3 linked regions of the Homo sapiens genome follow. The protein of the gene in region 1 purifies or fractionates together with the protein of each later gene. This does not show direct contact. Each region holds a gene or a part of one and is shown in the gene's direction. Other genes may lie near its edges.

Region 1 (8,455 bases):
TGGTTCCTTTTGAGGGTTGTGAGTGGGAATCTGTTCCCTGCCCCTCTCCCAGATTCTAGGGGTTGTTGTCAAAGCTTTGGGGTACCTTGGCTTATAGATGCCTCACTCAGATCTCTGCCTTCATGTTCACATGGCATTCTCTCTGTGTGTGTCCAAACTTCCTCTTTTTATTTTTATTTTTTATTTTTGAGATGGAGTCTTGCTCTGTCGCCCAGGCTGGAGTGCAGTGGCAGGATCTGGGCTCACTGCAACCTCTGCCTCCCAGGCTCAAGTGATTCTCCTGCCTCAGCCTTCTGAGTAGTTGGGACTACAGGCACGAGCCACCACACCCAGCTAATTTTTGTATTTTTAGTAGAGATGGGGTTTTACCATGTTGGCCAGGCTAGACTCAAGCGATCCGCCTGCCTTGGCCTCCCAAAGTGCTGGGATGACAGGCATGAGCCACTGCACCTGGTTAGCTTCCTCTTTTTTTTTTTTTTTTTTTTTTTTTTTGAGACAGAGTCACTCTGTTGTCTAGGCTGGACTGCAGTGGCACGATCTCGGCTCACTGCAATCTCCACCTCTTGGGTTCAAGCGATTTTCCCGCCTCAGCCTCCCAAGTTGTAGTATAGGTGTCCGCCACCACGCCTGGCTAATTTTTTATTTTTAGTAGAGACGGGGTTTCGCCCTGTTGCCCAGGCTGGTCTTGAATGCCTGACCTCAGGTGATCTGCCCTCCTTGGCCTCCCAAATTGCTGGGATTACAGGTGTGAATCACTGTGCCCAGCCAACTTCCTCTTTTTCAAAGGACACCAATCATATTGGATTATGAGCCCACCCTACTACTCCAGTGTGACTTCATCCTACCTTAACTAATTCTATCTGCAACGACCTTATTTCCAAATAAATCACGTTCTGAGGTATTGGGGGTTAGGATTTTAACATATGAATTTGAGAGAGCGGGACACAGTTCAACCCATAAACTGAGTAACTTACGCTGTTAAGATAGATGGAATATGGGACAACTGCTCAGGAATCCAAACTCAGGCTTACAGTCTCTAGAACTATGCTGTCCAGTGGGGTCCCCAGCAGCCATATGCTGCTAGTAGACTGAATTCAGACCTGGAGTGTAGCTGGTTTGAACTGAGATGTGCTGAAAGTGTAAAGTCCACACTGGATTTTTTGTTGTTGTTTTGAGACGAAGTCTCGCTCTATCGCCCAGGCTGGAGTGTGGCGGCGCGATCTCGGCTCACTACAACCTCCATCTCCCAGGTTCAAGGGAGTCTCCCGCCTTGACCTCCCAAGTAGCCTCCCAAGTAGCTGTGCACCACCACGCCTGGCTAATTTTTGTATTTTCAGTAGAGACGGGGTTTCACCATGTTGCCAGGCTGGTCTCGAATGCCTCACCTCAAGTGATCCACCCACCTCAGCCTCCCAGAGTGCTGGGATTACAGCCATGAGCCACTGCATCTGGCTGAAGCCTTGTATTTAAAAAAGAGACAGGCCAGATGCAGTTGTTCATGGCTGTAATCCCAACACTTTGGGAGGCCAGTGCAGAAGGATGGCTTGAGCCCAGGAGTTTGAGACCAGCCTGGGCAAGATGGTGAGATCTCCTCTACAAAAAAAATAAATAAATAAAATAAAAATTAGCCAGACATGGTGGTGCATACCTGTAGTCCCAGCTACTCGAGGAGGCTGAGGTGAAGTATTGCTTGAGCCCAGGAGTTTGAGGCTGTACTGAGCTATGATCATGCCACTGCACTGCAGCCTGGGTAAGAGAGACCCTGTCTCTATTAAAAAATAATAATAATTAAAATATTAAAAAGAGCCATAAAATGTCTCAATAACTTTTATATTGATTACCTGTTGAAATGATAGTATTTTGGATATGTTAGGTTAAATAAAACGTTAAAATTAATTTCACCTATTTACTTTTTACGTTTTGAAACATGGCTGTTGGGTGATATAAAATTACATTTGTGGGCCAGGTGCAGTGGTTCACACCTGTAATCTCAGCACTTTGGGAGGCTGAGGCAGGTGGATCACTTGGGGTCAGGAGTTCAAGACCAGCCTGGCCAACATGGTGAAAACCCATCTCTACTGAAAATGCAAAAATTAGCCGGGTGTGGTGGTGGGTGCCTGTAATCCAAGCTACTCAGGAGGCTGACGCAGGAGAATCGCTTAAACCCAGGAGGCGGAAGTTGCAGTGAGCCAAGATCGTGCCACTGCCACTCCAGCCTGGGCGACAGAGCAAGACCCCATCTCAAAAAAAGAAAAAATTACATCTGTGGCTTGCATTATATTTCTATTGGACAACACTGTTCTAGAAGTACAGATTGAGTAGCCCTTATCTGAAATGCTGGGGACCAGAAGGGTTTTGGATTTTGGATTTGGGATTTTTTTGGATTTTGGAATATTTGCATTATACTTACTGGTTGAGCATCCCAAATTTGAAAATCTGAAATTTGAAATGTTCCAATGAGCATTTCCTTTGAGCGTCATGTTGGCACTCAGAAAGTTTAGGATTCTGGAGCATTTGTATTTGGGATGCTGTACCTGTATCAACAGTACAGTGTGGGAACCCTGGAGATGGTCACAGTACATCATCTTGGTTCTGGAAAGACTCCGTGAAGCTGGTGGTATTTGAAAGGGGTGGAGGAGAGTCTATGTAGGGAATTAAGTGGGCCATAGGGAGCCATTGAAGATTCTTGAGCAATGCATGGGAGGATAAAAACCAGTTTCAAGAAAACTAGAATGGGAATACCATGCAGGATAGATGGGAGCGAGAAAAGAGATGACGGTAAGAGTCAGAGGCTGGGCATGGTGGCTCACACCTGTAATCCCAGCACTTTGGGAGGCCGAGGTGGGCAGATCACCAGAGGTCGGGAGTTTGAGATCAGCCTGGCTAACATGGTGAAACCCCGTCTCTACTAAATATACAAAATTAGCTGGGCATGGTGGCATGTGCCTGTAATGTAGCTACTTGGGAGGCTGAGGCAGGAGAATTGCTTGAACCCGGGAGGCGGAGGTTGCTGTGAGCTGGGATCGTGCCACTGCACTCCAGCCTGGGCGACAAAGTGAGACTTAGTCTCCAAAAAAAAAAAAAAAGAAAAGACAAAAAAAAAAAGAGTCAGAGGCCCTAGGGAGCAGTTACAAGGGCCTGCATCATCTTTGGCAGACAGAGAATTGGAGTGAAGAAAACGTTAGGAAAGGAAGAAAACGTTTGGAGAGTCACCAGAAAGGTGAGGGCAACATGAAGAAGAGGTGGGAGTCTGTTCAGGTGCTGATGGGAGGCCCAGGGACACCACAAGGAGCTCCCCGCCCTCAGATTCCCACTGAGCAGTCAGGGTGGGCAGTATGTCCCTCTCCTTCCTCCTTGTCCCCAATTTCCCTCCCCATCAGACAGACAGAAAGGGGCAGAGGAGCCCAGAGCAGGGAGAAAGGAGGCAGTAGAGCAGTACCTCTCCGAGTCCCTGTACATCCAGACCTGGAAAACCGCAATTCCCTGGGCGCCCTTGAGCATTGGCCTCGGGGCCTGGACGCCTCAGTCTTCATCCACATTTGGTGCAGAAATGCTTTTGTTTCTCAGTTAGAGGATATGCCAACTCCACTCTTTAAGCGTGTGACACGGAACCCTGCTCAGACTGGGCACTTGATAGCCACTGAACGATGAGGCAGGGGTTCAAAGACCAGGCAGGTCTTTGGAACCACATCCGGGCTTCTCAGTTCCTGCTCCATCACCTATAGGTTTGTACAATTGTCAGCAAGTTATTGAACCTTTCTGAGGCTCCATTTCCTAATCATAAAAGAGAACTCCTAGTGCCTCCTCCCTGGTCTCATGCGGGTCAGATGCCGTGACATGGACTGTGGCCCTAAGCGCGGTGCCTGGTTCACAGCTGATGTTTGCTAATTGCACCCATGAAGAGAGAAGGGCAGAAACCCAGTCCCCTCTCCGACTTCTCTTGGGAACTGCGGTCTTCGATGCTGACCCTCGTTTTCTGCCGGCTGTATCTTGTGTGCATGCTGCTCTCTCCCACTCTGCTGCCAGAGAACTTCCCTAAACCTGGCTCAGATCATCGCCGCCTCCCCTATTAAAATATCTCCCATGGCTCCCTATTGCCTAAGGTTCCCCCAGCTCAGCACCTAGCAGTCAGGCTCTCCAAACCCCTATCTATCTGCCTTTCTTGCTTTCTCTCATAGCTCAGCCATTGCCTACCATGCATTTCAGCCAACTCCTAGTCTCTCCTATCCCCCATCCCTCTCCCTAGAAATACCATCATTCTGGCAGCCCCAGGCCAGAAGAGACCTTTATGATGCACTTACCCACTCCTGCCCACCATCGCTGCCCCACTGGTCCCTAGCCTCTGGCCCTCCTTGCTGTTGCTGATGCACATCATAGCTCGTCCATTCATTCACACCATCTGTCTATTTCCACAGCTCTTACTATACACTTTATCTGCCCCCAGACTGGAACCTGTGTTTTGCACACAGGTGACTTGAGAATGTTTGTGGGATTGAAGTTGAACTGATTTTCATAAATACAAAAGAGTTCTGGCAGCTGCGTGGAGTAAAATTGTCTCTGCCCTGTGTTGGCCTTTGCTGTTGAGATGTGGTGATGCATAGCCCTGATGGGCAGGGAGCAAGCACACTGTCTTTAGATTGGGCTGCATGTGGATCCAATCCCAACTTTGCCTCTGGATTGCTCTGTGTCCTCTAGCTTGTTGCTCAACCTCTCTGTGCTCCCCTAAGTAGGATCCTCTGTAACACAGAGATGATTAAATAGTACAGGTGTATCCAGCCCTGTGGCCCAGGTGCTATTCTGAGCACGTTTCATACTCCCCACCACAACCCTGAACTAGTACCATCACTCCCATTTTACAGATGAGGAAACTGAGGTATGAGACTGAGTAAGCTGTCCAAGGAAGGGATAGAGCAGAGACTCAGATTCTGGCTCCTGAGCTGGAGCTGTGGTGTTCAGATCCCATGCTCAGTGTGTGTGAATGCACTCTATAAATGCTAAGTGTCCAATGTATGTAAGGGGCGAGGTCCTGCATAGCACATGGGTGGAAATGTGGCCCAGTAATGGTCATTATTTGTCTCTGTGGATGAGGACACTGAGTGTCAATTTGTTGGAGGCTCCGGAGGCAGTTTGATCCCATTTATCATCCATAATGTTTTAATCCCAAAGACAGATCAGGCTCACGGGCCCCCAAATGTGCTGAGGGCCCCCAAAGGGCAGAAGCCTAACAGCCCTTTTATGAGATCCCACAAGGCCAGGTGACACCTCTCAGGTGAGTCTAGGGTTGGCCAGCCTTTGGTTTCATGCAGGCATTATTTTCTTTCTTTTTTGAGACAGAGTCTTGCTCTGTCACCCAGGCTGGAGTGCAGTGGCGCAGTCTTGGCTCACTGCAACCTCCGCCTCCCAGGCTTAAGCAGTTCTCGTGTCTCAGCCTCCTGAGTAGCTGGGATTACAGGCATGTGCCACCATGCCCAGCTCATTTTTGTATTTTTAGTAGAGATGGGGTTTCATCATGTTGGCCGTGCTGGTCTTGAACTCCTGGCCTCAAGCAATCCTCCTGCCTTGGCCTCCCATAGTGTTGGGATTATAGGCATGAGCCACTGCGCCTGGCTATGCAGGCATTTTTCAAAGGCCCCTCACCTCTCCGTCTCCTCCCAGTAAGGAGTAGTGAGTGTGCCCAGCCAGCAGCCAGCAATCAAGTAGCCCATGGTGGCCAGGAGGCTCCGGGGAGTCCCAAGTCCACCCAGGAGTGCTTTAGGCCACTGATGTGAGTGGGACCCCCCCCCCACTCCACCCCTTTTTATTTATTGTAATGTGGCGACATTACTTTTATAATGTAAGTGCTTATGATCTTCTGACATCTCTGTGTCTGACCATTATATAGAGGGGATATTTAGCAATGTTGGGAGACATTTCTGGTTGTCACAGTGGCCGGTATCTAGTGGGTAGAGACCAGAGAGCTCCCAAACATCTCACAATGCCCAGGGCAGCTCCCTCCCCTGCCACGCACACATAACAAAGAAGTATCTGGCCCCACATGGCAACAGTGCTAAGGCTAAGAAACCCTGGTCTATAAGAGAGCGCCACAAATCAGACTGTCAGCACAGGAGGGAATCCATGCACTGGAGACTGGCGTCCAGAGAGGGGCAGTGATTTGCCTAAGGACATACAGGAAGCTATGATACAAATCACTGCTCAGATTCATGGGTCCCACCTGGCGAGTTAATGTTTTTCTTCTTCCTTTTTAAAAAATCTAACAGTAATTTTTAGTAACTTGTAAATCAGTTTTGTGAGTGAATTCTCTTTTAACGTCAACCCAGCATAAGGAGGGGCATCCACCCTGAGAAGCACCGTGGTCGCGGGCACAGATGCAGACAGAAGGGAAGTCATGGTAGCTTGTGAACAGGGAGAGGTTTCAGCTGTAGCCAGCCTGGTAGCCCTTGCACAGGTGGGAGTGTCCTGTTGGGGCCCTGCCACCTGGCAGGTCCCTCTGGGTCTCAGCCAGATGAAGGAGGAAGGCTTCAATATCCAGATTTGCCCCAGGGTAAGTGGCCTTGTGGGAACCAGGCACTAGCCGGGGGGCGGGGACACCAGGGGAGCTTGGCAGGGGACAAGAGCAAAGAATGGGGCTGGAGCCACTCCAGAAGGTGATAGTAAGGGACCTGTCCTCTGTAAGAACAAGATTCTTCAGGGCCCCTTACTCATAGCCTCCTCTCCTGGCAGCCAAGAATGAATGAATGGGTACGTGAACTAGTGTATAATGGATGAATGAATGCATGGTAGAGGCAGCAGGCTCTGGACTGCTCAGCGGGATTCAGTGCAGAGATGTGCAGACTTGTTAGATGGGAAGAATCCCCTGAAACAGTTGCTGACACCCCTCCCTGGATATTTCAATTCAGTAGGTCTGTGTAGGGCCTGGCCCTCCTGGATTTTTGGATCAGGCACATCTGGGAAATACTTGGAGTAGAGTGGAAACACAGTGGAAGGTGTGTGCAGGCAGACAGCCGCACCTGGTCTGGCACTCCCCTGCTTGTGACCTGGGTGCACACCGCCCTGCGCCCCGCTTTGCTGGCGGGTCAGATGGTATGGAAGTCACCGCCTTGCACCGTTATCATTGTGTGCCTGGTAGTGCCCTGTCCCTTGGTCCTTGTGCTAATAATAACAACTACAGTAACAATGATGGGGTCAGGTGGATCCAGACACGGCACTGCAGCTTTCAGCTGACTAGCTGTGTGACTTGGGCAAGCCCCTTAATCTCTCTGATCTCGGGCTCCCTCCTCTGTAAAATGGAATTAAGAATAACCTCATTGAGGAGCTTCCTGAGGAGGTAAGGAAAGTGCCTGGCACAGTGCCAGGCTGCTAAGAGATCAATAAATGTCCCATCCCCCAGCCCCACCCCAGTTCTTTCCAGGAATTTGAGAGACTCCTCCCCCTGTGTTTGAAAGTGGCAAAGTCTGGCACACTTGCCTCATGACACTGACTCAGGGCAGGTCCTGTGGCCAGCAGGTCACACAGCCCCGAGGCCAGCCTGCCAGTGCCTTTCTCCGACTCCTGGGCTCCAGCAGGTGCCCGACTCCTTCCCTTTTCAGACCTGCCTCAGTCTGTGGAGCCCTGGCTGCTAAAGGGCCACTCAAGCCTCACCAGTCTGGGCCCTCACCTTACAAATGGGAAAACTGAAGCCCAGAGAGGGTCTTTGACATCCCTGAGGTCACACAGCAAGTTCCAGCATCTCTTCCTTCCCAGAATCTTTGTCCCAAAGAGTGGTGTCTCTTTGCTAAATAGATGGTTCTGTTCTTTCCCTTCTTCCTCTTCTTTCCTCGGCTTGTCCTCTCCCTCTTATTCTATTTGTCTCGTGGTGAGTCACATAGTGCCTCATGTAGACCCCCACTTCCCCTCTCCAGACTCTCAGGCTCGGGAAGTGATGGGTTTCCTGGGAATCCACACCATGATGACTCGTACCTTCTACGTCTGTGCCCAGCTGTGGCTGCCTCTGGGATGGTGGATGAGTTCCTTCAGGGCTTTGTGTGAACTGGGCCTGAGCCAAGCCCCTAGATGGGGAAAACAGGCCACATTGTTCAGGAGCACAAAGGATGTTAGCAAGAAAAGACACATGACCCATGGCCGCCCACACACCCACATCTCTCCACGCCCCGTGCCATTTCTGCCCGCCGCTGCGTGCTGGGTGGTTTCCTCTGCACAGAGTTTCCCTTGAGCTGCTACTCTGAGGTCGTGTGCCTGTTGTCATCTTTTAAAGCCTCAGTTTTGTCGCCATTTCCCAGGTGACCTCTAGCACACTCAAGTTTGAGAAGCGCTGGTGTGGTTCAGGAGCAGCGCCCCTTCATTCTCCAGCACACTCTCCCCAGTCCTCTAAGTCGAGCGTGAGCTCTGTCCAGAGAAGGCCTCCAACCAGACCATGTGGACCGCGGGGCAGGCTGGTGACACTGCCTGTTGACAGTGG
Region 2 (7,000 bases), on another chromosome or scaffold:
AAATTGCTTTGTCGTGGCTGGTTGTTAATTTGCTTGCAGTTAAAACTGTCACCACGAAGTGGCAGTATAATGTTGTTAAACTGCTCAGTGTAAAGCGGTTATAGTAGAGAAAAAATTACATTATTCACTTTTTATAATTCAGTACCTTATGAACACAAGCTGTGCAACAGTGTTAGGTGGTTATATTATATAATTTTGTGAAGGTAAAAATTCTTCATATTTTTAGTTATGATTTGTGGGATCAGACGATGCAGGACCACAAAGGAGTTAAATCTGTTCCAACCCTTTCATTTGACATATACTCAAATTCAGAGGTTGTCATTTGCGTAAAGTTATATGGATCTGAAAATTTCTGGAACCAGAATTAATATCTTAGTTTCCCCATTCCTGGTTGGTATAATGAATAATTAAAATACTAATCACAGCAGTGGTGATAATAATAATAGCCTAAAATTCACTATGCTCTTCCTGGGTTTCAGGCACAGATTATTTTATTTACTTCTCCAGGCAGCCCACAAGGTCAGTGTTACTGTTGTTCCCGTTTTACAGATGAGGAAACCGAGGCTCAGTGAGTTAAAGTAATGTGTCCAGCATCACCCAGCAGGCAAGCTAAAATTAGACTAATAGCTCAGAGCAGCACTTCTTGTTTTCCTAAGATACCTTATGTGAGTAAAACCCCCAGACTTGAGCCCCAGTTTAGTATGGTGGTAAGAACAAGCCGAGTCTTAGACCCAGGCAGCCCTGCATTTGTGCCTTCCAGGTCATGTACCTTGTGTAAGCTCTTTAACATCTCTGTGTCTGAGTTTCCTCACCTGCAAAATGGGGTGATGATCATGCCTGCCTCCAGAGTAGCATGGAAAGCCCTGGCACACGGTTGGCATTTGTTAATTGGAATTCTTGTTATTGTTGTTGATGTTGTTGTCATCTGTATGGGCTCAGATTTTCCCACGGATCAACTTAGAAACTGCAAGGTACAGTGACTCTGCAGTGCCCAACATGGAGATGCAGAGATGTAAACCAGTGCCCAGAGCATGCAGTGCAGAGCATGGCTCCTGCCTCTGACCCTGTCATTGCAGACCTGGGCAGGCTGCTTTCCCTCCTTGTCCACCCACTTCCTCACTGGGAGACAGTGGGGTTGGACTGGATCACCCAGTATCTTTCCAGACCTAGAGCTGAGTATCTACTCAAGTGTCAGTGATATACATAAAATCAAAGGTCTTCTGCCTCTCATCACCCCAAGAACAGATGACCATCTGATTTTTCCAGTTCATGACTTCTTTGTTGTGTAAGTCAGCTTTAACACTACTTAGTTTTTTTGGCACCTAGCCTCATCTTGGGTAATATCAGTGAAAAGCTGAGTTTGATCGACTAGTTATGCATTTTAACATGTTCACAATTATAAAACCATTAAAAATAAAAGTTGATCACCCATGGACCACCTAATGTCAACTTTATGCCATACATTGGAAAACTCCATAGCATAGATGAGTAAAATCCTCAGAGGGTGACAACCAGGGCCTCATTCCCAATCTCAATTACTGATGCTTCTCTGCTTTTTCTTCTTCTGCCTCTTTTCCACCCTTGCCGGGTGACCCTTTCCAGCCCACAGCGTCTCCTGCCTCTTCAGCCGACATGGCCCCCATCAGCTCGGGGTCTTCTACCTGGACGTCCTCTGGCATCCCATTCTCATTTGTTTCCATGGCAACTGGGATGGGCCCCTCCTCCAGTGGCAGCCAGGCCACAGTGGCCTCGGTGGTCACCAGCACGCTGCTCGCCGGCCTGGGGTTCGGCGGTGGTGGCATCTCCTCTTTCCCCAGCACTGTGTGGCCCACGCGCCTCCCGACGGCCGCCTCAGCCAGCAAGCAGGCGGCTAGGCCAGTCCTAGCCACCACAGAGGCCTTGGCTTCTCCAGGGCCCGATGGTGATTCGTCACCAACCAAGGACGGCGAGGGCACCGAGGAAGGAGAGAAGGATGAGAAAAGCGAGAGTGAGGATGGGGAGCGGGAGCACGAGGAGGATGGAGAGAAGGACTCCGAAAAGAAGGAGAAGAGTGGGGTGACCCACGCTGCCGAGGAGCGGAATCAGACGGAGCCCAGCCCCACACCCTCGTCTCCTAACAGGACTGCCGAGGGAGGGCATCAGACTATACCTGGGCATGAGCAGGATCACACTGCCGTCCCCACAGACCAGACGGGCGGAAGGAGGGATGCCGGCCCAGGCCTGGACCCCGACATGGTCACCTCCACCCAAGTGCCCCCCACCGCCACAGAGGAGCAGTATGCAGGGAGTGATCCCAAGAGGCCCGAAATGCCATCTAAAAAGCCTATGTCCCGCGGGGACCGATTTTCTGAAGACAGCAGATTTATCACTGTTAATCCAGGTAAGTGGTGCAGGTCTTCTTCGAGGGTTCCTGCTCCTGTGAATAGTCGTACCCTTTTTCAAAAAATTGGGAGCAGAAGGTGAAGCTTCAGAAGGTACTTAATATTCTTAGAATCATATATGTCTGTCATAGAAAAGGTGCACACATGTGAAATGTGTATGTGTGTGTCCCTGTTTTACTCCAAAAGCCTACTCTCTTACGCTGGAGTAAGTCTTTCTTTGATATTTGTTTTCTTGCCTCGGAATAACTCCAGGGACTTCAACCAGGCAATGATATACATGAATAAAAAAAGCCATCGATCTTAAGAAGTTTATTTATTAAGATTTCATTCCATATTCATTATATAATGTATCTACAAATGGCTAGTTTGGTGCCAGGGACTGGGCAGGGTGCTGTCCCAGGGGATCCTAGTCCCTGCCTAAAAAGTTTAAAGGGGAAGGCAGACAGATGACAAGACAGTAGCTAGCTGGAGCGCATGCCCAGAAGTTAGGTAGCAGGAACGTTAGAAAGCCAGCAAGCTAGATGGTGGTTAGTCGGCAAGCTAGATGGTTAACTGGCAAGCTGGAAAACTAACTAACTGAAGTTTTCGATTGTGAAATGGTAATAGAGGAAATAAACAGGATGCTGTCCAAGAGAATTATGGAGAGGATAGGGACCTACCTTAATTAAGAAAGGCCACTCTGGAGAAGTGGCTTGTTCATGGAAACCTACAGAATGAAAGGCTTCAGCCTGGGGAGAGCTGGTATTGGCCCATGGTCCTTGCCCAAGAAATACGGCCCTCTCTCCCAGAGCTCCCATTGCTGTGGGAATGAGCCAGTGTATAGACAGTGAGGCCAGGGCATGAGATCCTCATCTCCTGGTGGCAATTTTGTTGCTCTATCATATGCTCAAATCTTAATGAACCATCCTGATAGTTTCTGCAAGGGAGCCATAAGCATGAGGAGTTGTTATTGTTGTGAGGGCTTTTCTTAATAAGAAATTCTTCATTTTGCCAGACTACAAGATGTTTAGCAACAATTTTTTTTGCGTCTAAGCTGTTGTGGAGTTATAAGAGTGCAAAAAAAAAGCAACTGGTAAATATTTATTTGCTTTTGCACTTGTAAACATTAAAATTCATCTAAAGCTGAGATCTCGTATGTTAAGATACAACTTAGAATAAATTTTCATGTTTTGAATTACTTTCCTCTTAAAGCTGCTATGAACTAATTTTTTGAAGTGGGGGTCTCCTGTGGGTATTGCTCACTTTAGCTGTGACTGGGGGAAAGGTGCAGAGTAGCCTTTTGTGGAACTGAGTGAAGGAAATGTGGGGCCACTTGGGAAGCTGTTTCTGTAAGAACAGTGACATTCCCTCTAGGAATTACTTTGAAAAAGTTGAATTTCTTGCATTTGAAGACGCTGAAGAAACATGTACGGAATGCCCACTGTATAAGAGGCACCAGGCTAGGCTTTGGCAGTAGAACATAGGTAACACAGACTTCTCTTCTCTTGGGGTTTGCATTCTGGTAGGGGAGCTTGAGAATATGCCAGTAAACAAATACATACCCTTAAGTAGCCTTAATTGCTACAGTTGGGGAGCGGAGGGACAGTGTAGCTCTGAGTGGTCAAGGATGACCTCTGAGCAGAGAGCCAAGTGGTAAGAAGGAGCTAGCCATGCAAAGATCCAGGGAGGGGAATTCTGGGCTGCAGGAACAGCAGGTCCAGAGACCCTACAGTGGGGAATTAATTTGGATCAGTTGAGGAGCTATCAGGCCAGTGTGGTTAGACCAGAGGGAGTGAGGGGGAGAGGAGGGGATGGATTTAGAGATTGATGGAGGTGCTCTGGAAAGGTACTCGTTGACCACGCTGAGGATTTCCTTCTACTAGAAATGAGAAACCAGGGTAGATCTTGGCTGCAGTGTTACTTGATTGATTTTTTGAAAGACCTCTCAGGCCTCTGCGTGGAGATGATATAGGAAGGCAGGAATGGATGAAAGAAGCCCAGTTAGGAGGCAGTGGTAATGGTGGCTTGGACCAGTGTGTTTTCTATGAAGACAGGTGGTGGACTTGGAATTGACTTTCAAGCTTGAGTGTTCAGCCTCTGGACTATGGGCTCTGGCAAAGTAGCATTCTCAGCCTGCTCCTCTTAAACATTTGTTTGACCACATTCCTGAAAAATGTGGCTGCTGAGAGCTTAGGCTGGGAGTATTTACAGTTTGAGAGATGGGAGAGAGGCAGGGACTGGGACCGCCCCAGGTAAGTGGAAATGAGTTCTTGCCATTGGAGTCAGGTTCCAGATTCCAGAGACAGGGGAGAAGAAATGGATGGCAAACTTTGGGGGCTCCCTACTCCAGGTATGAGGTGTGTAGGTCCTCGGCTTCCACCCTACAGAAATCTGAGAGCATCTACAATCTTGGCAGAGTGGCTTTGGGAGTCAGATCAACCCAGTTGGCTCTGTCCCTTATTCACTCAGGGTCCTCAGGTAAGTCTTAGTCCCGTGTCCTCGTTTGCAAAGTGGAGCTAATGATCATGCTTAATGCCGAAGGTGGTGTGGCTGTGGAGACCCCCTCACTGTCACTGACAAATAGGAGCTGTCAGCAGCCCAGGTGCCACACAATGATGGTGACTGTGAGGAGGCCCCCCACAGCCCTTTCCTTTGCTATTGTCTGTGGACATTAAAGCTACTGGTCCCCAAGTAACTGCCATTAAAAATGACCTCCAGATGGCCGAGTGCAGTGGCTCACTCCTGTAGTCCCAGGACTTTGGGAGGCCAAGGAGGGTGGATCGCTTAAATCCAGAAGTTCATGACCAGCCTGGGCAACATGGTGAAACCCCGTCTCTAGAAAAAATACAACAATTAGCAGGGCACAGCGGCTCATGCCTGTAGTCCAGCCACTCGGGAGGCTGAGGTGGGAGATCACTTGAGCCTGGAAGGCAGAGGCTGCAGTGAGAAGATCACACCACTGACAGAGCAAGACTCTGTCTCAAAAAAAAAAAAAAAAAAAAAAAAAAAGAAGGACCTCCTCCTGAAACTCAACACTGGTAAATCAGAGCTTTCCCTTATCACCTTCAGCAAAGTGAGAAGGTCCACTTCTGAAAGCTAAAAAAAACTTCCTTGAAAATTTCAAGCAGTTCAAGTCTGAAAATGGTGGTGATGATTGTTTAAGCCAGATATAAGCAAACTTTTTCAGCTAAGGGCCAGAGAGTAAATGTTTTTCAGTTTTGCAGGCCACAGGTCTCTGCTGCAGCTACTTAATTCTGCCTTGTAGCACAAAAGCCACCATAGACAATACACAGCTGAGAGGATGTGATAGTATTTCAATTAAAACTTTGTTTGCAGAAACAGGCGATGGGTCTGATATGGTCCACAATCTGTCATTTGCCAACCCCTGGTTTACACAGAAATCTGCATGTGCCTGTTGATTAGTAAAGGACGTGAGTGACCTGAAGGTAAAACAAGCAAATCCCACATCAGTCAATGATCCTTCAGGTCTTGCTTCACTTCCATTCACCCTGTCCTTTGCCCTGTCTGCCTCCTCCAGTATGGTATTTATTTTTTAATGAAATCGCCATCATTTTAATGTTAGTGATTTATTTTAAGGACTTTGTGTGTACATTTGCTTTAAATCTGTTACACATTTATTTTTTCTTCATATTAAGGAAAAACAATTACTTTAATCAATACCTGGTCTCTGAAAAGAGTGATAATGTGTAAAGTTACACACTGTTATATTTTTATGAGTATCTCCAAACAGCTTGTTTAAATCCCTTTGGTGTTTCATAACATATTTTTAAGTCCTGTGAGTAGTGGCTTTAATATATTATCTCCCAGGGAAGAAGAAGAAGGGAATCCTTCTATAGAAGAAGTGGCAAACCCAGACACCTACAGAAACCAGTTAATACTAATGAGAAACAAGGACCAGGTGTTAGACATTAGGGAGTGGTAAGGACTGCAGCAAATTAAAGAGCACATGACTTTTCTAAAGAGGGCCATCTCACTCAGCTCCAACAGATTACTGCCAGTGAGAATGCCTAGTGAGCCAGAAATCCAGGTTTTTGTGCAGAACCCCCCAACTTTTAAGTAAGCTCAAATTTTTAAAACAATTTCTGCTTTTTAAAAATGTAGGCCAAACTAAACCCATCCCTGGGCCAGGTAGGAACCGCGGGTGGTCAACCTCTACTGTAGTGTTGATTGCTAGAGTTGCAACTTCCTGAGAAGCCTTTCAGAAGGCTTGAAGGCCTAGGTGTACTCCCTCCCTTTCACCAGGCTTTTTTCTAGCGTTTCTTTAGTGCAAAGCCCTCAGCTGGATGTCTGCTACATGGAAATCCAGCATGTGGTCCCATCCTGAGGAGCCACAGCGTGAGCCCAGAAGCCAACTGATGCAATGAAATGTTCTTGGGGGTACTATGCAGTACAGCATACCCTACAAAAACATTTCAGAGTGGGCATCATCTACAAATTCATCATTTGGTGCTGGGATTTTCCATTTTTGTTTCCTTAAATTAGGGAAACTCTTTTTTCAGGTTGAATCTTGCTCAGAAACTCAGTATGTGAACACTCATTGCTGAAGGTTTACTGACTGCATCTTCTGGCTCAGCCCTGAGTCAGGTGCTAAGGGGACATTCCACTTCAGGGGTCGGCAT
Region 3 (5,785 bases), on another chromosome or scaffold:
TACAGTTCCCAATCGAGGAGTGGCTGCTGCTTATATCTCCAACCTCATCTTTAACATCTGGCTTCTTGATACCTTGTCCTAGAGAAGTAGCCAACTGAACCTCAGGTACCCACCCCACCCCTGGGAAGCCAGGCTGTTTCTTAGCTCCCTGGCCTTGCATAGGTTCCCTCTCATCCATGTTGACCCAAGCACTTCTGTGCATCCTCTGAGACCCAAGTCAGGCATTGTCTCCTCCGGGAAGCCTTCCCTGACCACCTTTCCCTGTGCTGTGTTGGTTTCAGTATGTGTGTTTGTTTTTGCACCTACTCTGTGCTCTTGTCTGTTTTCTAGTCTGTCTCTCAGAGCAGGAGTTGCATTTTATTCATCTCTGGATTTCCTGCATAGTAAGTGCCCAGTAGTATGTTGAGTTTTTGTTAAATATTTGGGTAAGACCCTTAGGTCTTTTTTTTTTTTTTTTTTTTTTTGTGATAAGATTTGGAACCCATAGGCTTCAACAAGGGTGATTTTTGTGTCACGCTGCCCCTGATTTCCAAACGTGTTGCTGACTTACTCTTAATATTGGTGGCAGGGTGATATGCACATGAAATGTGGAAGAGTGAGGAGAGTGAGAACCATGCCACAGTACTAACCCCATGGGAGTCAAGTCAGAGAATCTCAATCCCGTTTCAAAGGGCCACGGTCAGTGTTGGGTTTTACTTCCCAACAACTCTTAAACTCATTTTCTTCCTTCCACTTCCAGGAGAAAAGGATGTCATTATCTTAGGGGATTTTGGCCAAGGGCCAGACAGCAATGACTATGATATCCTGAGGAAAGAAAAGTTCCACCACCTGATCCCCGCGCACACCTTCACCAACATCAGCACCAAGAACCCTCAAGGCTCGAAGTCTCTGGACAACATCTGGATCAGTAAAAGCTTAAAGAAGGTTTTCACAGGTGAGGCAGAACTCACTTGTCCTTTCTCCTGTTCAGGAATGGAGTGAGAGAAACATGTCTGAACTGACAGAAGTCATCTCACCTCCTCTGAGGCATACATAGGATTGTGGTTTACGTGACTGTATAACTGTCATTTAATCAGAGACAGAATCCAGGAATCCAGGCCCCTGTCAGTCCCGCGCTAAGGACCACACAGTGCTTTCCAGCCATTCTCTAATTGTTTTTGTAACTATTCGTTAATTTTATTCAAATATACCTCCTGCTGCTTAGATTTCTAAATCCTCATTTTTCAAAGTGAAAGGGAGTGTGACAAATAATTTTAGAACACCCACTGACCTACAGCAAGCAGATGTGTTCCAGGCAAACCTGGTTATAGATTGGCAGAGTCCTGATTCAGAGATGAGCTGATAACGTTACTTTTAGGACACTTAGTCTTCTAGCAAACATTTGTCAAACATGCAAGTGTTGTGTTGTAGGATGCAGTGTGTAGACATGCTATGAGGTGGACATGCTGTGAGGTGAACAGGTGTCTCATATAGTGTCACAATGGGACAGGAGAAATGCTCAGTGCTCTGCAAGGAGCAGGGTATGGGGGTGATTTCACCCTCTCTGCAGACTGGTAACCTGCTGAGTCAGGACACAGTCAACAATATGGAAGAGACAGTAGGGTCTTTTGATGAAAGACAAGAACAGTATTTCTAAACTCTGACTGGACATTTTGCGAAGCCCCACGGATGCCTATTATACTTCAATGAGAAATTTAAAAATAAAAGTTGCAGGGCCTGGCTTTTATTGCGAGAGAGACTAATGGGCAGCCAAGGCCAAGATCTTCAAGACTAGGACATCTAGGCTTGACTGTCACCTGCTTCTCCCCTCTCTCTTGGGGCACTAGTTTCCTGTTGTACTCTGTCATGGGAGGACCCAAATGATGAAGAAAGTGGGTCTCAGGGAGAATGACAATTGTCAAACTAGCCTCGGTTTGCAGAAATGCGCTATGGGCCAGGAAAAGAGGCCAGCCCACGGCCTTTGCAGGCCCCCAGGAAGGTGTCTATTGAAGGAAGAGAGCTGGGGAAGCTGAGCCAACAGGGCTGGAAGGAAGTTGGAAATCCTTTCAGTGGTTCCCTTCCTGTGAAGTTGCTGAGCTCAGGGAGGAGTTGCCCCCGCTACAGAATGGTCAGCAGTGTGTGCCAAAGCTCCACCCAGAATCTAGGCCCATGTCAATCCTGCACTAAGGACCACACAGTGCTTTCTAGCTATTCTGTAGTTGTTTTTGTAACTATTCATTATTTAATTATATTCAAATATACTTCCTGCTTCATAGATTTCTAAATCCTCGTTTTAAAAATACCATTACTTTCTCATAAGCTTCTGTAATTTTTTCTTTTTTACCCTTTGTGTAGAAAGAATTTCCACCCCTAACCCCCTTAGTGTCTTTTGCTTTGCAAAACTGGACCTTTGCTTTGGACTTGGGATGTCTTTATGAGGCGTCTGTCTCTGTTTTGTGATCAGATTCACAGCAGCGCGTTTATGAGGACAGGTCAGCCCATGTGCCCATGTGTGTCTGGATGGACAGGAGGCCTGGCCTCTGGGTGTTTTCACTGCCTAAATGCAGAAACTCTCCTTTATGTGGAAAATCAAACTGGCCGAGACCTTTAATATGCACAGGCAAATGCACAGGCACCTTCCAGCTACCTGAGGCAGCCTCTCCGGGCACCCCGGCCTGCAGACATGCGGTGTGACCCTCCACCTGCCAATCCAGGACCTCCCGCACCCAACCCCCCATCCTGATTCCCGGTCTCTTTCCTTCCTCTCCCTTCAGGTCACTGGGCTGTGGTGAGAGAAGGCCTCACGAACCCTTGGATTCCGGATAACTGGTCTTGGGGCGGGGTGGCTTCTGAACACTGCCCAGTGCTAGCCGAGTTCTACACTGAAAAGGACTGGAGCAAGAAGGATGCCCCTCGGAACGGCAGCGGGGTGGCCTTGGAGCGAAGTGAAGCCAACATCAAGCACGAGCGATGATGACACCAAATCCATGTGTCCACCCTGGGACCCAGGAGGGCACAGCCAAGGAATGAGCCCTGTGGGGTGACGCTTCAGGGCAGAGCTGCCTTTTAATTTTTATTCTCAGAGCATCAGCACTTGAGGCCTTGCCCCACGCCTTCTCTGTGGACCATTCAGGACCTCCAGTGGGGGTGGCGTGCCAGGCGCGTACCCCACCAGGTGGGCAAAGCAGAAACCTGCGGGGAGCGGAGACGCCTTTTATCTCTGGATGCCACAGACCTGAGCAGCATTGGGCTGGCTGTCCGCTGCTGACTGGATGGCAGCACAAAGACAATATGAGCAGAGGGAGGAGAAGAAGGGGTGCTCAGGCTGCGGGCCACAGTCCAGCAGCGCCAGAAGCACTCATTTCTGACCACCAGGCTATGACGTTCCTGCTGCGCATTACAGAAAGCTTTTAACTGTGATCAGGCACTCTGCTCAGATACATTGAGTGGCGATTTTTAGTTTTGTTTTGAAAAAATAAACAGATTAACCTGCCTCGCTGCAGTGAGAGCATGGGACAAGTCCGCCACAGCCCTCCCCCGCCCCCTTCCCCCGCCCCCCAACGCGCAGTGTGTATTTGCACCACGGCAGGTGCCTCTGTGTGGAGCTAGGGTCAAGCCCTGAGCAGCTTCACTTCCCCTGCGCCTTTTATGTCCCCACCTTGAGGCCTTGCAGAGGCGCCTCTCAAGGCCCCATCAGCTCGCCGGGACCTCTGTGAAGCCTCTCTGTCATCTCCCCTTCCCAGCCCCTCCTTCATCCCCTGCCTCCTTCACCAGCCTGGCTTTTGCCTGGAGCACTATTTGTTTAGTTCTCTTTGCAGGACAAGAATTCTCTCAGGGTGGTATCACCTCCTCCCTCCTCCCCACTCACTCCAGTTTTTAGCCCGGAGCCTCCTGTGGTTGACTATCAGGAATGTGTGCTGTGTCAGGATACATAGGAAGTTGACCTCGGGGTATCATGGAGAGTGTCCCTCCTAGTGGCTGGAGGTAGGGACAGTTGGTTGTGGGGCTGGAGAGAGGTTGTGGGGAGGAAGCGAGGATGCGTGCCTGCCACTAGGCATCTGCATCCCCGAGCCCAAGCCAGGAGGGATTTCCCTTAGGCAACACCATCCCAGGGAGATCTGCCACAATTTGCGTTTCACAGCTGAAGACGCTGAGGCTTAGAGAGCTCGACCTCCTCAAGGTCACACCACTGGGTAAATAGAGGGATGCAGACTCAGGTTTTGCTATGTGCTCACATTTCAACTTTATGCTTAACATGAATGGAAAAATATGAAAGTAAATAGTGAAAAGGTAAGTTATGAGCTTAGATTACCTAGATTATTCCAGTATCCCATGGAAGCTGAGGACTTATTCCGCTTTCCACACCGAACACTAAATGTGGACCAGTATCAAGAACCCTCCTGTCCCCACGCAGTGTAAACCCAGTGGCTTCTCTGACCTGGAGCTGATGGGCCGTGAAGGGGGCCTATTTTTCTCCAAAGGCCATCCTTTTGGGGCCACCTGGCTCCAAGAAGCATCGCTGGTCTTGGGGACGGGAAGGGAACCCTCTTCCAGGAGCTCTAAGGGTACTTGGGAATCAATTGTGTCCATTCTGAGGTCTCTCCAGTGGGAGGGCGGCAGCTCCTGTCCCTGGGTTCAGGCTGTGCTTCTGGAAGCATCGAAATGGGATGTCTGAGCCTTGAGGAAAAGCAGCAGGGTTAGCATTAAAGTCAAGAGGGGCAGCTCAGGATGCTACCAGGGAGCACATCGTTTCTGGTGCCTCATCTAAAGGTGAAACCTCCCCTACATTCACCAGCCGGATGTCCCAAATCCCTTTAGCCAGATTGCTTTTTGCAACCAAAGCTGTGGACAGAAAAGCCTCCTTAAGTGAGCTGAGGGGACAGGAAATCCAATCAGATGACCTTTGTGTTCGTAATCGGGCTTGAGCCAGAGGCTGGGGAGCTGAGTCCCAGCCAAACCTCACTGGCCCTTTTGCTTTTCACGCCCAGGGCTCAGTGGCCCAGGAAGTGTGCTGGGCAGCCTGTTCTTACTCCAGCTCAACCCATTGGGTGTTGGCTGTTTTTGGTTTTAGTTGTTGTTTTGTATTTTGTTGTTTTAATTAATAGGCTTTATTTGTAAGAGCAGTTTTATGTTTACAGAAAAATTAGGCACAAAGGGATTCCCATATCCCTCCTCTTCTTTGCATATTTCCCCCTCTAATTAGCATGTTGCATTAGCATGGCACTTTGTTACAACTGATGAACTTGTATTCATTATTAGCTACAGTGTTCATAGTTTATATTAAAGTTCACTCTTTGTGTTGTGCATCCTATGGGTTTTGACAAATGTAGAATGACATGTATCACCATGCTACAGAATCATTCAGAATAGTTCCTCTGATGTAAAAATGCCCTTGTGGTGGGGCATGGTGGCTCGAGCCCGTAATCCCAGCACTTTGGGAGGTGGAGGCGGGCAGATCATTTGAGGTCAGGAGTTCGAGACCAGCTTGACCAACATGGTGAAACCCCATCTCTACTAAAAGTACAAAATTTAGCCAGATGTGGTGGCGCATGCCTGTATTCGCAGCTACTTGGGAGGCTGAAGCACGAGAATTGCTTGAACCTGGGAGGTAGAGGTTGCAGTGAGCTGAGATCATGCCATTGTACTCCAGCCTGGGCAACAAGAGCGAAACTCTGTCTAAAAAAAAATACCCTTGTTCTCCATCTATTCACCCATGCCTCCCTCCCCCTAACCCGTGACAGTCACTGCTCTTTTCACCATCTCCATAGTTTTGTCTTTTCCAGGGTGTCGTTTGGTTGGAATTATA

Evidence for each region. Proteins that work in one complex are often made in the same cells at the same time.
Region 2: the proteins of ISG20 (region 1) and PTPRG purify together in Homo sapiens (affinity purification with mass spectrometry; 2 studies listed by BioGRID and IntAct, with this or other methods). This does not show direct contact.
Region 3: the proteins of ISG20 (region 1) and EEPD1 purify together in Homo sapiens (affinity purification with mass spectrometry; 2 studies listed by BioGRID and IntAct, with this or other methods). This does not show direct contact.

What each region holds. Positions count from the first base shown.
Region 1 is NC_000015.10:88,641,462-88,649,916, forward strand, and holds part of ISG20 (interferon-stimulated gene 20 kDa protein), read left to right. Parts: intron 1-8,455.
Region 2 is NC_000003.12:62,201,571-62,208,570, forward strand, and holds part of PTPRG (receptor-type tyrosine-protein phosphatase gamma isoform 1 precursor), read left to right. Parts: intron 1-1,602; coding exon 1,603-2,380; intron 2,381-7,000.
Region 3 is NC_000007.14:36,296,254-36,302,038, forward strand, and holds the end of EEPD1 (endonuclease/exonuclease/phosphatase family domain-containing protein 1), read left to right. Parts: intron 1-739; coding exon 740-934; intron 935-2,753; coding exon 2,754-2,953; 3' UTR 2,954-5,285; downstream 5,286-5,785.